2 linked regions of the Homo sapiens genome follow. The protein of the gene in region 2 interacts with the protein of the main gene of each other region in a biochemical or structural test. Each region holds a gene or a part of one and is shown on either strand. Other genes may lie near its edges.

Evidence for each region.
Region 1: the proteins of NUMB (region 2) and PRKCZ form a complex in vitro, tested with the Homo sapiens proteins (one study listed by BioGRID and IntAct).

The regions. Positions count from the first base shown.
Region 1 is NC_000001.11:2,053,400-2,060,425, reverse strand, and holds part of PRKCZ (protein kinase C zeta type), read right to left. Parts: intron 4,986-7,026; coding exon 4,864-4,985; intron 3,943-4,863; coding exon 3,853-3,942; intron 886-3,852; coding exon 835-885; intron 1-834. UniProt on the Homo sapiens protein: Calcium- and diacylglycerol-independent serine/threonine-protein kinase that functions in phosphatidylinositol 3-kinase (PI3K) pathway and mitogen-activated protein (MAP) kinase cascade, and is involved in NF-kappa-B activation, mitogenic signaling, cell proliferation, cell polarity, inflammatory response and maintenance of long-term potentiation (LTP).
Region 2 is NC_000014.9:73,287,531-73,294,556, forward strand, and holds part of NUMB (protein numb homolog), read right to left. Parts: intron 5,345-7,026; coding exon 5,204-5,344; intron 1-5,203. UniProt on the Homo sapiens protein: Regulates clathrin-mediated receptor endocytosis. Plays a role in the process of neurogenesis.

The DNA of each region.
Region 1 (7,026 bases), on a different chromosome or scaffold from region 2:
AACTGCCCACTCACCCTCTTGGCCTGAATCTGCTCCCACCCCCAGTTCCCGCCCAACACAGGGCACTGCCAACACCCAGCATCCAGCCTGAGGCCAGCGAGGTGTGTGCCCTGGCAGCAGGGGTGGGGGAAGCCCTGCCTGAAGGGCACTGAGCCACGTGCCCTGCGCTGGACAGGCAGCGGCCTCGGTCCAGGAGCTCCTGCCCACACAACGAACAAGGCATGGCACGGATGCTGGAGGCCGTGTGGGGTCTGGAGAGTGGGGGTGGAACCCCACCAAGCACAGCCATGGGATGCGCGGCCCGAGAGCAGCGTAGCCACCTGCTCAGGGCCCAACAGTCTCCGGGATGCAGTAGGAAGTGAGGTCAGAAGCTTCCCTCTGAAGCCACAGCCCCCGGGACTCACTCTCCTTCCTCTCCCAACAATGGAGCCAGTGTGGGATGAACGGAGCCCCCACACCAGCTCAGGGGCCAGCAGGGACCAGGAGGAGCAGACGACTGGCCTAGGGGTGGTCGTGAGCTGAGGCAGCCACAAAGGAGCAGTGTCCAGCCTCCCACCTGGCCCCTCCCTCCTAGGGAGACGGCAGGGCACCCCTGGACTTCTCATGCTACCAACCAGCCAAGCGAGTCCCCCGCCATGTGGTGCTGTCAGCCAGAACACGCACAGGCAGCAGCTGCAGTGAAAACCCCACCTGCGGTCACCACGGCTGCTCCTGCCCTGACGCTCCACGAGGGTGAACCTCCGAAAACGGCACCACTGCCACCTCCGTGGCACAACGGATCAACAGTTCAACCCCGTAACATGCGAGACCGGCGTAGGAAACCCCAGTACTCACTGTCTTCTCCCGGACATGGCAGGCCAGGCTGCTCAGGGGTGCTCGGGAAAACTGGACAAGAGAGAGAAAGAGACAGCGTCAAGACCCTGCGGCTGCCACTCAACAGTCTCACGGAGGAAGTCCCGCCTCAGTCAGGCTGAGCACGTGGACTTCACGCAAGGCGCACGTGGCACTGCCAATGAGAGCCCGCTCCTGGGAGACGCAAAACCCCGTGCGTCTACGTAGGCCAGGCTCCGACTTTAAAACCCACGGAAAAACTTAGAGTAAAAGGCAATCAGAGGGACCTGGACAGCAAAGCCATCAGAGGAAGCTACTGATTTGTATTTTTAAACTATATAAAAATGGGAAAGAAATGCAATTACTTTGAACACTGACTTTTAAAAGCACTTTAGATTCCACTTCTTCATACTCAAGACAGAGTTCAAAATTATTTTAACATATATCCTGGGCTTCCACAATAAATTATTAAAATAGGTGCTTAGAAAGTATTAAAACTTGGCTGGACATGATGGCTCACGCCTGCAATCCCAGCACTTTGGGAGGCCGAGATGAGAGGATGGCTTCAGGCCAGGAGTTCAAGACCAGCCTGGCCAACATGACGAAACCCCATCTCTACTTTTTTATGTGTGTGTGTATACACATAAAAGTATTGAAACTTTAAAAAAACAAACATTTTTTGTTTTTTGTTGGTTTTTTTCAGATGGAGTCTCACTCTGTGCCCAGGCTGGAGCTCAGTGGCACAATCTCAGCTCACTGCAACCTCCACCTCTCGGGTTCCAGCAGTTCTCCTGCCTCAGCCTCCCAAGTAGCTGGGATTACAAGTGTACACCACCACGCCCGGCTAATTTTTGTATTTATAGTAGAGATGGGGTTTCACCATGTTGGTCAGGCTGGTCTTGAACTCCTGACCTCAAGTGATCCACCTGCCTCGGCCTCCCAAAGTGCTGGGATTACAAGTGTGTGCCACTGAACCCAGCCCTATTTTTCTTTTATCTAGAAAACAATGTGAATTTTTAAGCCACTGTATCTTTCCACATAGAGAGGCAAAATGTGCTTACTATCACAACCACAATAAAAAGGACTAGATTAGGCACATCTATGAATTTATTTATCTGACACAGGGTTTCGCCCCATCACTCAGGCTAGAGTGCAGTGGAATAATCACAGTTCACTGTAGCCTCTACCTCCTGTGCTCAAGGAATCCTCCCACCTCAGCCTCCCGAGTAACTGGGACTACAGGTGCACCACCACGTCTGAATATCAAAAAAAAAAAAAAAAAAAAAAATTGGGGCCGGGCACCGTGGCTCACGCCTGTAATCCCAACACTTCAGGAAGCTGAGGCAGGCAGATCACCTAAGGTCAGGAGTTTGAGAACAGCCTGGCCAACATGGCGAGACCCCATCTCTACTAAAAATACAAAAATTAGGCCGGGCACCGTGGCTCACGCCTGTAATCCCAGCACTTTGGGAGGCTGAGGCGGGTGGATCACGAGGTCAGGAGATCGAGACCATCTTGGCTAACATGGTGAAACTCCGTCTCTACTAAAAATACAAAACATTAGCCAGGCGTGATGACACATGCCTGTAGTCCCAGCTACTTGGGAGGGTGAGGCAGAAGAATTGCTTGAACCCGGGAGGCGGAGGTTGCATTGAGCTGAGATCGCGTCACTGCACTCCAGCCTGGGCGACAGAGCGAGACTCCAACTAAAAAAAAAAAAAAATTAGCCAAGTGTGGTGGCACATGCCTGTAGTCCCAGCTACTCGGGAGGCTGAGGCAGGACAATCGCTTATATCTGGGAGGTGGAGGTTGCAGTGAACAGAGATAGTGCCACTGCACTCCAGCCTGGGGACAGAGCCAGACTCTGTCTCAAAAAAATAAAACAAGTTTTGGAGAGGGGGGGGTCTCACTATGTTGCCCAGGTTGGTCTTGAACTCCTAGGCTGAAGCGATCCTCCCACCTTGACCTCCCAAAGTGCTGGGATTACAGTTGTGAGCCACCGCACCCGGCCTAGTCTTTAAATTTAGAGCCTCATTGATATAAAGGGCGAAGAAAATTAAGTGTTGTAACCAGGTAGCCCGGTGTCCAGGAGAATGATGGATCTGTCAGAAATCCATGGGTGGTTTCGAGCTTTGGTCCCATCTTGGACTCAATCGTCCATGGCCAGACGCCTGGCAAGGAGCCCAAGCTACGCCAGAAGTGGACACAGAGACAAAGACGTGACCGGCTGGCCACAGCGCTGGAACCACATTCCCAGGCCCCAGACGCCCTGCAGACCCCCAGCAGTACCGGGGAGGAGCCCACGCCCACCTAAAGACAAAGTGGAAATGATCACAATCACATCTCCCATGCGTCAGCTCATCATGGGGCTTTGAACTTAAAGCTGAGGACAGCTGTGAGCCTGGAGCCGGGCCTAGGGAGCACCGGGCAGGTGAGGTGGCTGGTGGGGCTGTCCCCTCTGTCCACATGCGCCGCGGGCCCTACGCTGGCCACTGGAGCCTCTGAGTGGTTTACGGGTTCTTTGTTAAGAGCAGTTTTCATTTGGGTTAATAAAATGTCAAAGAAAAGGCCGGGCGCGGTGGCTCACATCTGTAATCCCAGCACTTTGGGAGGCTGAGGCAGGCAGATCACGAGGTCAGGAGACTGAGACCATCCTGGCTAACACGGTGAAACCCCGTCTCTACAAAAAATACAAAAAATTAGCCGGGCGTGGTGGCGGGCGCCTGTAGTCCCAGCTACTCGGGAGGCTGAGGCAGGAGAATGGCATGAACCCAGGAGGCGGAGCTTGCAGTGAGCTGAGATTGTGCCACTGCACTCCAGCCTGGGCAACAGAGCAAGACTCCGTCTCAAAAAAAAAAAAAAAAAGTCAAAGAAAAAAACCCAAATGGCATTATATTAGACATCCCTAAATTCTCTGGCATCATAGGATTTTAAACCATTTTAAATCCCCCAGCTAGTCGGCAGACACCCACAGCCAGGAACAGCCCCCCAGAGCTGCCCACCACAGACCCCGCCACTAACCATGAATGATGAGGCCTTCATCCCTGCACTGACGGGCCAGGCGGAAAGCCTCTTCCAGCTCCATCTGGGAGGACACCGTGCAAGGGTCACCTGGGTGGGGCAGGAGACGGTGCTGACGTCGCCGAAGGCCCGAGGCAAAGGGGGCTGTGACGAGCCCGCTCAGCACACCAGACAAGGGTCTGGTGGGGGGCAAAGTCCCGATGCTCAGACTGGCCACCTCCTGGCAGGGTCGGGAGGTCCAAGGACGGCCGTCCACACTAGGGAGTCACCTGGCCCCCGGTGCAGCGTCAGAGCCACCCCGGAAGGGAAGTCAGTACACCTGCAGCCCTGGGCACCACTTGGAGGGCTAAGCAGTGAGCGGGGCTGAGGACACTCTCCGGAGGTCAGTCCTGGGCGGAGGGAGAGCTCCTTGCCCTCTATGGCTGGAAAGGGACATGGAGGTGTACAGAACCCAGGCCCTGCAGGGCTGTACCCAACCCAACGGGGGCGCTATCAGGCTCCACCCGCACGGCCGTGTCCTTGGCCAAGAGCTGCCCGCCAGTCCCTGGGAGAAAGGGGTCTCTCTGGACGTCTCCCAATCCCCTTGTTTTTCAGGATGTGTCTAAGAGACAGGAGGTGGACACGGCAGGCCCTGGCTGCTTGTGCCCTCCCCGTGGTCCCTAGAATATGAAGAGCCCATCCTTTCAGAAGCACCTACCGAAAAAGGCCAGGACATGAGAAAGGAGGTCAGAGGAAGAGGTGAGGACCTGCCCAGGGTGGGGCAGGGAGACCCCCTGCAGGCAGTTCAAGACCAGAGCCCTTCCTAGGGGCATCTGGGCCCAGGTCCTTGATAAGCATCTGTGGCCAACCTCTTTCCCACCATCCCCACTGGGGAAAAGTTGGCGCCAACAAGTTTAATTCCACAGCTTTAAGTCTCCCCACAGAATTGGCTGAGCACACTCCGCACACAGAGGCTGCCCTGGCGAAGTCCCCTGAGGCTGAGGATTCTGGCCAACATGGGACAAGGGCTACCTTCGCTGTCCACCCACTTGAGGGTGAGCGGGTGCTGCTGGTGCAGACGACACATGTCTCTCACTTCCTCACAGAGCTCCTCGAAGGTCGTGGCGGCGTCCACGCTGGTGATGAAGATGTCCCTGGGGCAGAGGGGACATGGGCATCTGTTACCGTGGGGCATATTTGAATCAAATTAAAAAATGATTACCAACTAACCAAATCATTGATTAGATAAATGAAACTTTCCCCAAAGACAATATGACAGCCCCACCCCCTCCCCCCTCCCACACACAAAATAGAACCATTAACCATAACCATAGTTTAAAAAATGGCCACCATTGCCAAGCACAGTGCCTGACACCTGTCATCCCAGCACTTTGGGAGGCCGAGGCGGGTGGATCACGAGGTCAGGAGATCGAGACCATCCTGGCTAACACGGTGAAACCCCGTCTCTACTAAAAATACAAAAAATTAGCCAGGCGCGGTGGCGGGCGCCTGTAGTCCCAGCTACTCGGGAGGCTGAGGCAAGAGAATGGCGTGAACCCGGGAGGCGGAGCTTGCAGCGAGCCGAGATCGCGCCACTGCAGTCCAGCCTGGGCGACAGAGAGAGACTCCGTATTAAAAAAAAAAAAAAAAAAATGACCACCATCAACTTCCTTGCACAGAGAAAAAAGCGCGACCTACCTGGCTGGAAAGAATGAGGACAAAATGGGAGAAAAGAAAGTGCCCTCTTGTGGGAGGTCCGGCAACGTTACCTGGTCGGGCACTCGTTCAAGTTCACCCAAATGTGGGTGACCCCGGGATGGGCGCGAGCCGGGTCGGTGCAGGCCGCCGGCTTCACTAAGGTAAAGGAAACCAGTCAGACCTGCCCCCAGACCTCGACGGTGCCAGCGGTGAAGTGGCGGGGATTAAATAATTCCATAATGAAAGGCCACTCTTTAGACCCCGGAGTGGGCACTGGGTCCGTTGCTGCAGCCACGGCAGAAGCCCCGGCAGATTTTTTTTTTTTTAAAACCGAGTCACACAGAGTCAGTGTGTTTTATCTTTTCAGCCCCAGACAGGACCTGAACTCCAGGGGCTGGGGAAGCTCACGGACTCCCAGGCACCCTTTGAAGGCTGGCACTTCCCTGCTGATAGGGACCCGAGGTCCCCCCTCACCTCCTGCACTGAGCAAGAGCTGGTCTCACCCTGCGTGGAGGGGAGGGACCACCACAGGGCCCAGCTGGTGTTTCCTGAAACTCAGAGCGGGAATCACACCCTTGTGAACACACTGAATTTTCAGAAAAATCTACGGCTTTCTGACACCCACAAGAGCGCGGGGCAAGAGCACAGGGCCTATAAAAAGAAGCCTGAAGGGGTGTGAGATGTCCCAACCAGAGATACAGGCTCTGCTCTTCGCTGACACTGCTGGCTCCCCATCAAGGTTATCTGAATTCATCAGACAAGTTTCAAGAAACAAAGTTCTCATCCCAGACAAGAACTCCAGTGCAAACAGAACACAGGATCGGTCCACAGCCGCGGCCCTGACACAGCAGCCCAGGGCCCACCTGCCCCACAGGCCTCACCCAGTCACCCTGGGCCACCTGGGCCTGGGGGACAGACGCCCCAGCTACCCACCCCTTCCTGCTGGAACTGGCCACCCAGCACCTGCCCCCAGTGCCCAAGCACCCCACAGGAACCAACCTGGCTGGTCTTCGCCACAGCCCACAGCATCATGGCAGATTAGGAAAGTAAGGAATGGAGGGGGGTCACACACCCATCACCCTGGGGTCGCCCCAAGCTGACATCCACGCCTGCTGCCTGACCTGGAGTCCAAAAGTCTGACCACCAGGAACTCCAGAGTGGGAGTCGGCCATCACTTCACCTTTGACCTCTTCCTGCCCCACGCCCCTACCCCTACAGTCCTGCCTCCAGTGGAAGCCAGTTTCCGGCCAATCTAGAGGCCAGGTGGGTGGCTCCAGTAAAACCCCAGGGCTTGGGAAGTGTCAGGCCACCACCTCCAACCCTATCCCAATCCTGAATCAAACAGCTGCCCTGTGCCCTTCAGCAGGGGCGTCCAGGACTCAGCACCCAGCAGCCAGCTGGGCCGCCCGGGAGAGACTCCTGCGTCTCTGTTGGCCTCAGCACCAAGCCCTGGGCTTTGCACACAGAAGCTCCCTGAACACAAACGTTGTCTGAGCT
Region 2 (7,026 bases):
CCACACCTGGCTAATTTTTGTATTTTTAGTAGAGATGGGGTTTTGCTATGTTGGGCAGGCTGGTCTCCAACTCCTGGCCTCAAGTGGTCTACCCAATTCAGCCTCCCAAAGTGCTGGGATTACAGGCATGAGCCACCACACTCGGCCCAAATGTCTGTTTTTATGAAAGCAAGATGTTGCAAATTCCAGCTTAAAATTGTTTTAATAGATTAGTATGCCATATTAATTTAAATGAATAAATTTTCTAAGGTAGTGCTTATGATGGTTCAATTCACTGTTACAAGCCTTGGGGTAAAGTGATAACCAGCAACCTGTGCTTTTGTAAGCAGCCATGGAGAACTCTTTATCACTTAGGCTCTGTCATGTCAGCCCTGGCCAACAGCTTAGAAGACTCTATGCAAGGTTTCAAGCCTTGACATGCAAGCTTCTAGTTGCCCTTTGGGGAAGCAGTGGGAATATTTACCAGCCACTTCTAAGAAACTACTGGAAAGGCAAGGCAAATTTCAGGAGCTTAATGCACTGTTAATATGTCTAGGAAAAAAAGGTGCAAACTTAAAACTTCTGATAAACAAATATAATTCCAGTGATTAAAAAGGAATGAGGCTGGGCATGGTGGCTCACATCTGTAATCCCAGCACTTTGGGAGGCTGAGATGGGCAAATTGCTTGAGCCCAGGAGTTTGAGACCAGCCTGGATAACACAGTGAGACTCTGTCTCTACCAAAATAATAAAAAAAATTAGGCCAGGTGCGATGGCTCACACCTGTAATCCCAGCACTTTGGGAGGCTGAGATGGGTGGATCATGAGGTCAGGAGCTCGAGACCAGCCTGCCCAACGTGGCGAAACCCCGTCTCTACTAAAAATACAAAAATTAGCCGGATGTGGTGGCGGGTGCCTGTAATCCCAGCTACTTGAGAGGCTGAGACAGGAGAATTGCTTGAAGTCGGGAAGTAGAGGTTGCTGTGAGCTGAGATGGCGCCATTGCACTCCAGCCTGGGCAACAAGAGCAAAACTCCGTCTCAAAAAATAAATAAAAATCAAAATAAAGGCCGGGCACAGTGGCTCATGCCTATAATCCCAGCACTTTGGGAGGCTGAGGTGGGCGGATCACCTGAGGTCAGGAGTTCAAGACCAGCCTGACCAACATGGAGAAACCCTGTCTCTACTAAAAATACAAAATTAGCCAGGCATGATGGCGCATGCCTGTAATCCCAGCTACTCGGGAGGCTGAGGCAGGAGAATCACTTGAACCCAGGAGGTGGAGGTTGCAGTAAGCCACGATCGTGCCATTGCACTCCAGCCTGGGCAACAAGAGCAAAACTCCGTCTCAAAAAAAATAATAATTAAAAAAAAAGAAAAAGAAAAAATTAGTCGAGTGTGGTGGTGGTGTGTGTCTGTGGTCCTACTTGGGAGGTGGGAGGATCACTTAAGCCTACAGTAAGCTCTAATTGTGCCACTGCACTCCAGCCTGGGTGACATAATGAGACCCTGTCTCAAAAAACAAACAAACAAACAAAACTAACAATGAGACAAAAGCTTTGCTGTCTCCCCTTTCTGAATCCCCCCTCTAAGCAACCCTCCTCATTTATGGCCCTCCGTGCTTTTAGGTTTTCCCCCATACCCTTCCTATCTTCCTCTAGCTCTAATTCCCAACTCTACCTCCCAACCAAACACAGGCAAAAGTGAAAGCATGTTTTCATCCACACTGTCTACTTATAAAAGAATTAAGCAGATAAAACTGGTTTGTGTATGGGAGGAGTGGAGGACGTATATAAACAAAACACTGCTTTATATAGATACACTGGATTACCCAGAGTCAATTTAATAAATTCAATGGATGATTTTTAGCAGGGTTATCTGTATTTTAGACCATTTTGCTAATTGTGGAATAAAAAAGCTAGAGATGGTACAATAATTGTTGGCATCATTCACAGTGAGAAGAGATATTTGGGAACAGGAAGTCTTTTGTGGTGTTCTCAAAATCACATCACGTAGGCAGCTGCTCCTACACACGGCTCTGAACAAGTCGTCTCACTGGATTTTGCATGACAGTATTAGTTATCATAAGGACAGGTAAGGTTTAAAATGCTTTATGTCCCTAAGATTTTACTACCTTTGACTACTTTTTAAAAATTTTTAAACTTTTTAAAAAAACTTTTGACTACTTATTTAAAGACTGATAGAATTACTCTATGAATCCACATGAGTTTCCATCTAACTTCCCAGTAGGATGACATTAGGCCAGATGTTAAAGCATGAAACAGGAGTACTGAAAGATTCTTAGAATGTGTTTGCATTTGAACGCAGGTCTATTATAAGGACAGAGCTACAGGTCAAGGAAGCTTGCTTATTCTTTCTCCTAGGCCTAGGGCAGAAGTTGTTGAAGAGTGACCTCATCCCCAACCAACAGCATCATCTGGGAACATTTAAGTGCAAATTCTTAAGTACCAACCCCAAACTCACTGAATGAAAAACGCTGGAGATGGGGCCCAGCAATCTATGTTTTAAAACAAGTCCTCCAGGTGATTTTGATACAGTAGAACTATTGGCCTAGGAGATTCAAACAGGCTGCCGGGCCACTATTTGACAACAAAATGGTTTTTAAGTTATTATCTGGAAACTCTTGAACTCCAGATTTTTAAAGTGTAGTGATAGCAAAATATACCCAGTTTGTGGTTTACTTAGGGTCTGAGAAACAGAAGACAAAAGCACAGTTTTGTTACTTCAACTCATTTCAAAGCACCTGTGTCAAACCAATGAAGGACAGCTTACACAATATTCGCTAAAATTTTTGGAGTAATGTGGCCCAGAACCTATGCTAAGTGTGCTTATAATCTTTATCCAATTTAGTATTCACAACCACTTTCTCCATTTATAGAAGTGTATACCAAGACAGAGAATGTTAAGTAACTTGCCCCAAATCCCACAGCTAGTAAGAACCAGAATCAGAACTGAAACCCATATCTGACTCAGAGCCTGAGCTCTTAGCATTTGTTTACACCAATGTCTCAAAGATCTTTAAACAATTTTGGTCAATTTTTAGACCATGGCCACTACTTATCTTCCAGATTAAACGTTGGCAAGAGCTTTACTGACCTGTAACCTTCACGAATGGCTATACTGCCTATTCTGTCTCGACACTTGCTGTACATACAGTTTGAGTATCTCTTTTCTGAAATGCTTGGGACCAGAAGTGTTTCTGATTTTAGATTTTTTTCAGATTTTGGAATATTTGCATTATACTTAACAAGCTGACATCCCAAATCCGAAAAGCCAAAATCCAAAATGCTCCAATGAGTATTTCTGTTGAGTGTCATGTCGGTGCTCAAAAAGTTTAGAATTTTGGAGCATTTCAGATTTTCGGATTTGAAATGCTCAACTTATAGTAAAATCATTGTCATTTAAAAGAGACTTGTCTTTCATGTTAAAATGCTGGGTAATTTACATAAAGAATGAAATTATTCTCTATTTTAAAACAAAACTTCTATCATGCAACAATTTCTAGCGTTGTTCATTCTACCGTAACTTAGTATTTCTGTTTAGTTTTTGTTTTTTGTTTTTTTTTTTTGAGATGGAGTCTTGCTTTGTCACCTAGGCTGCAGTGCAGTGGTGCAATCTTGACTCACTGCAACCTCTGCCTCCTGGGTTCAAGCGATTCTCGTGCCTCAGCCTCCTGAATAACTGGGATTACAAGCACCCGCCACCACAGCCGGCTAATTTTTGTATTTTTAGTAGAGACAGGGTTTCATCATGTTGGCCAGGCTGGTCTCCAACTCCTGACCTCAAGTGATCTGCCCACCTCAACCTCCCAAAGTGCTAGGATTACAGGCGTGAGCCACCGTGCCTGGCCTATTTTTGTTTTATTTTTGAGACGGAGTCTTACTGTCGTCCAGGCTGGAGTGCAGTGGTGCAATCTTGGCTCACTGCAACCTCTGCCTCCGAGTTCAAGCGATTCTCCTGAGTCAGTCTCCCAAGTAGCTGGGATCACAGGCATGCGCCACCACACCTGGCTAACTTTTGCATTTTTAGTAGAGACAGGGTTTCACCATGTTGGCCAGACTGGTCTTGAACTCTTGACCTCAGGTGATCTGCCTACCTCGGCCTCCCAAAGTGCTGGGATTACAGGTGTGAGCCACCATGCCCGGCCAGTATTTCTTTTTTCTTTTTTTTTTGGCCAGAGTCTTGCTCTGTCACCCAGGATGGAGTCAGTGGCACAAATCTCAGCTCACTGCAACCTCTACCTCCTGGGTTCAAGCGATTCTTCTGCCTCAGCCTCCCGAGTAGCTGGGACTACAGGCATGCACCACCACGCCCAGCTAATTTTTTTGTATTTTTAGTAGAGACGGGGTTTCACCATATTGGCCAGGCTGGTCTTGAACTCCTGACCTCGTGATCCGCCTGCCTCGGCCTCCTAAAGTGCTGGGATTACAGGTGTGAACCACCGTGCCTGGCCGGTATTTCTGTTTTTATAATAGTTGAAAGTATACTCCAACTCAGTTTTGTTTTTTTGTTTTGTTCTGTTTTTGGAGACAAGGTCTCACTCTGTCACCCAGGCTGGAGTGTAATGGCACGATGACTCACTGTAGCCTCCAACACCTACGCTCAAGTGTTCTGCTCGCCTCAGCCTCCCAAGGCATGTAGAATGTAGCTAGGACTACATGCATGTGCCACCATGCCTGGCTAATTTTTTCTTTAACTTTGTAAAGATGAGGTCTTGCCATGTAACCCAGGTTAGTTTCCAACTTGTGGTCTCAAGTGATCTTCCTGCCCTGGCCAAAGTGCTGGGATTATAGGGGTGAGCCATCAGGCCCAGCCAACTTCTTTCATTTGTAGTAGTCTCTATGCAAATACATTTTTAATACCATACTCATATATGTTAGCCAACAAATACATTTAAGAACCCTGAAAATACTTCCAATAATTAAAAGTTTCAAATAAAGTTTAGCAACCACTATCACCAGACCATTTTTACCTTCCTTTAATGATCTTTGGTTTCAGCCAATCATTTTGTTCAGTGAGTTGCAACTCCTGGGGTTACATCAAGAGTGTGAACTATTTGAATAAAAGGAGCTGAAAGTAGGCTAGTTTAGGCACTTCCAAGTACTTGTTAAAAATGTAGTAGAAACCGCTTGGCTGAGCAAACCCAGAAAGAGCCCAGCTAACTGAGAATACTCATCATGAAATACATATTTGCTGGACTCACTGTGTCCTTGACAGCCATGAAGCAGTGACAGATCCAGCGACGAGTGGTGCCATCACGGCATATGTAAGAAAAGGCTCTATCAAAGTTCCTGTCTGGGGCACAGAAAGAAACTTTCTCTATCGTCTGGTCAACTATGAGGTCCTAGAAAATACGACACACAAAGAAAGAGAAGACTTATGAGGTTATCTGAGCTTCTCAGAACACAGGATGTTCATTTCATGATGCACAATCCATACATCTGATACAACTAGGCTATGGAATACCTAGATCTGTGTCCAGCAGTTTAAATACTGAGAATTGGACTCAGCAGACATCCCAAGAGGCACTTTGCCCAGATACCTCTCTCAACTACATGTTCTAAAGCATATGCTTGTTGATTCTAGTTTTACATCTCTTTCATGGTAGATTCCACATTCAACAATATATGTAAATCAGTATCTTTAATCCTTTGGATAAAAAAAAAATCCTTTGGGTTTATTCCCAAATATAAGCAAATACATATAATAGTCATGTTTATGCTAACTTCGTTACACAATGAACACTACACACACATACACACAGTTCTGCACCTTGCTTTTTTACATTATATATACCCGATCCAGTGAAGTTACTTCAGATACTGTATTTTTCAGGTGTGGAATTTCCACTCGTTTCTTTTTCTTTTTTTTTTTTTTTTTTTGGACAGTCTCACTCTGTCACCCAGGCTGGAGTGCAGTGGCGCGATCTTGGCTCACTGCAACCTCTGCCTCCCGGGTTCAAGCAATTCTCCTGCCTCAGCCTCCCAAGCAGCTGGGACTACAGGCGTGTGCCACCACGCCCGGCTAATTTTTTTGTATTTTTAGTAGAGACAGGTTTCACTGTGTTAGCCAGGACGGTCTCAATCTCCTGACCTCATGATCCACCTGCCTTGGCCTCCCAAAGTGCTGGGATTACAGGCACGAGCCACCGTGCCCAGCCATTTGTTTCTTTTTCATAGTTTCTATTCTCTGCCAAGATTTCTATCTCTTCATTCAACATGAACATATTTCCTTTCTGTCACTGAGTATAGTTATAATGCCTTCTATACACTGTTTTCATTTCTGTTAAGGTAGCAGTCTACTTCAGTGTACCATTTTCTGTACTAGTTGTGGTGATGCTATAAACACAAAACAATACAATGACTCAAATACAAGAGACATTTATTTCTTGGTCAAATAGTGAAGGCGGGCATTTAAAATCTGTCTGCTAATTCCAACATCTGAGTCATCTTGAAGTTAGGTCTTTATTGATTGTTATTTTGATGAGAATAAGTCAGACTTGTCTGTTTTGTTGTATGCTGAGTAACTGCATTGTAGTCATTGTGAATGTTGTATGTGGAAAGAATGGATTCCGTTACATTCCTTGGAAGTGTCATATTTTTGGTTTTATCAGGTAGCTAATTTGATTATACTCAAATGGAAAACTCTTATCTTTTGAACAGCACCTCAGACATCAGGGCGTTTTTGTTCTTTTTTTGAGACTGTCTTGCTCCGTCATCCAGGCTGGAGTGCAGTGGCGCAATCACTGCTCACTGTAACCTCAACTCCAGGGCTCAAGCATCCTCCCGCCTCAGCCTCCCGAGGAGCTAGGACTACAGGTGCATGTCACCATACGTAGGTAATCAAATATCAGTTTTTATATCCTTAGTTGGGCTATTTGGAGTCTGCCTTGAATCTACATGGCTAAAAGGGTCAGAGATTTGGGCAGAATTTATGAACAGAATTTGGGACTACTCCTTTTTGGCTTACTCATTTCCAGGATTCTCTTTTTACTTTCTTTTTTTGAGATAGTCTTGCTCTGTCGCC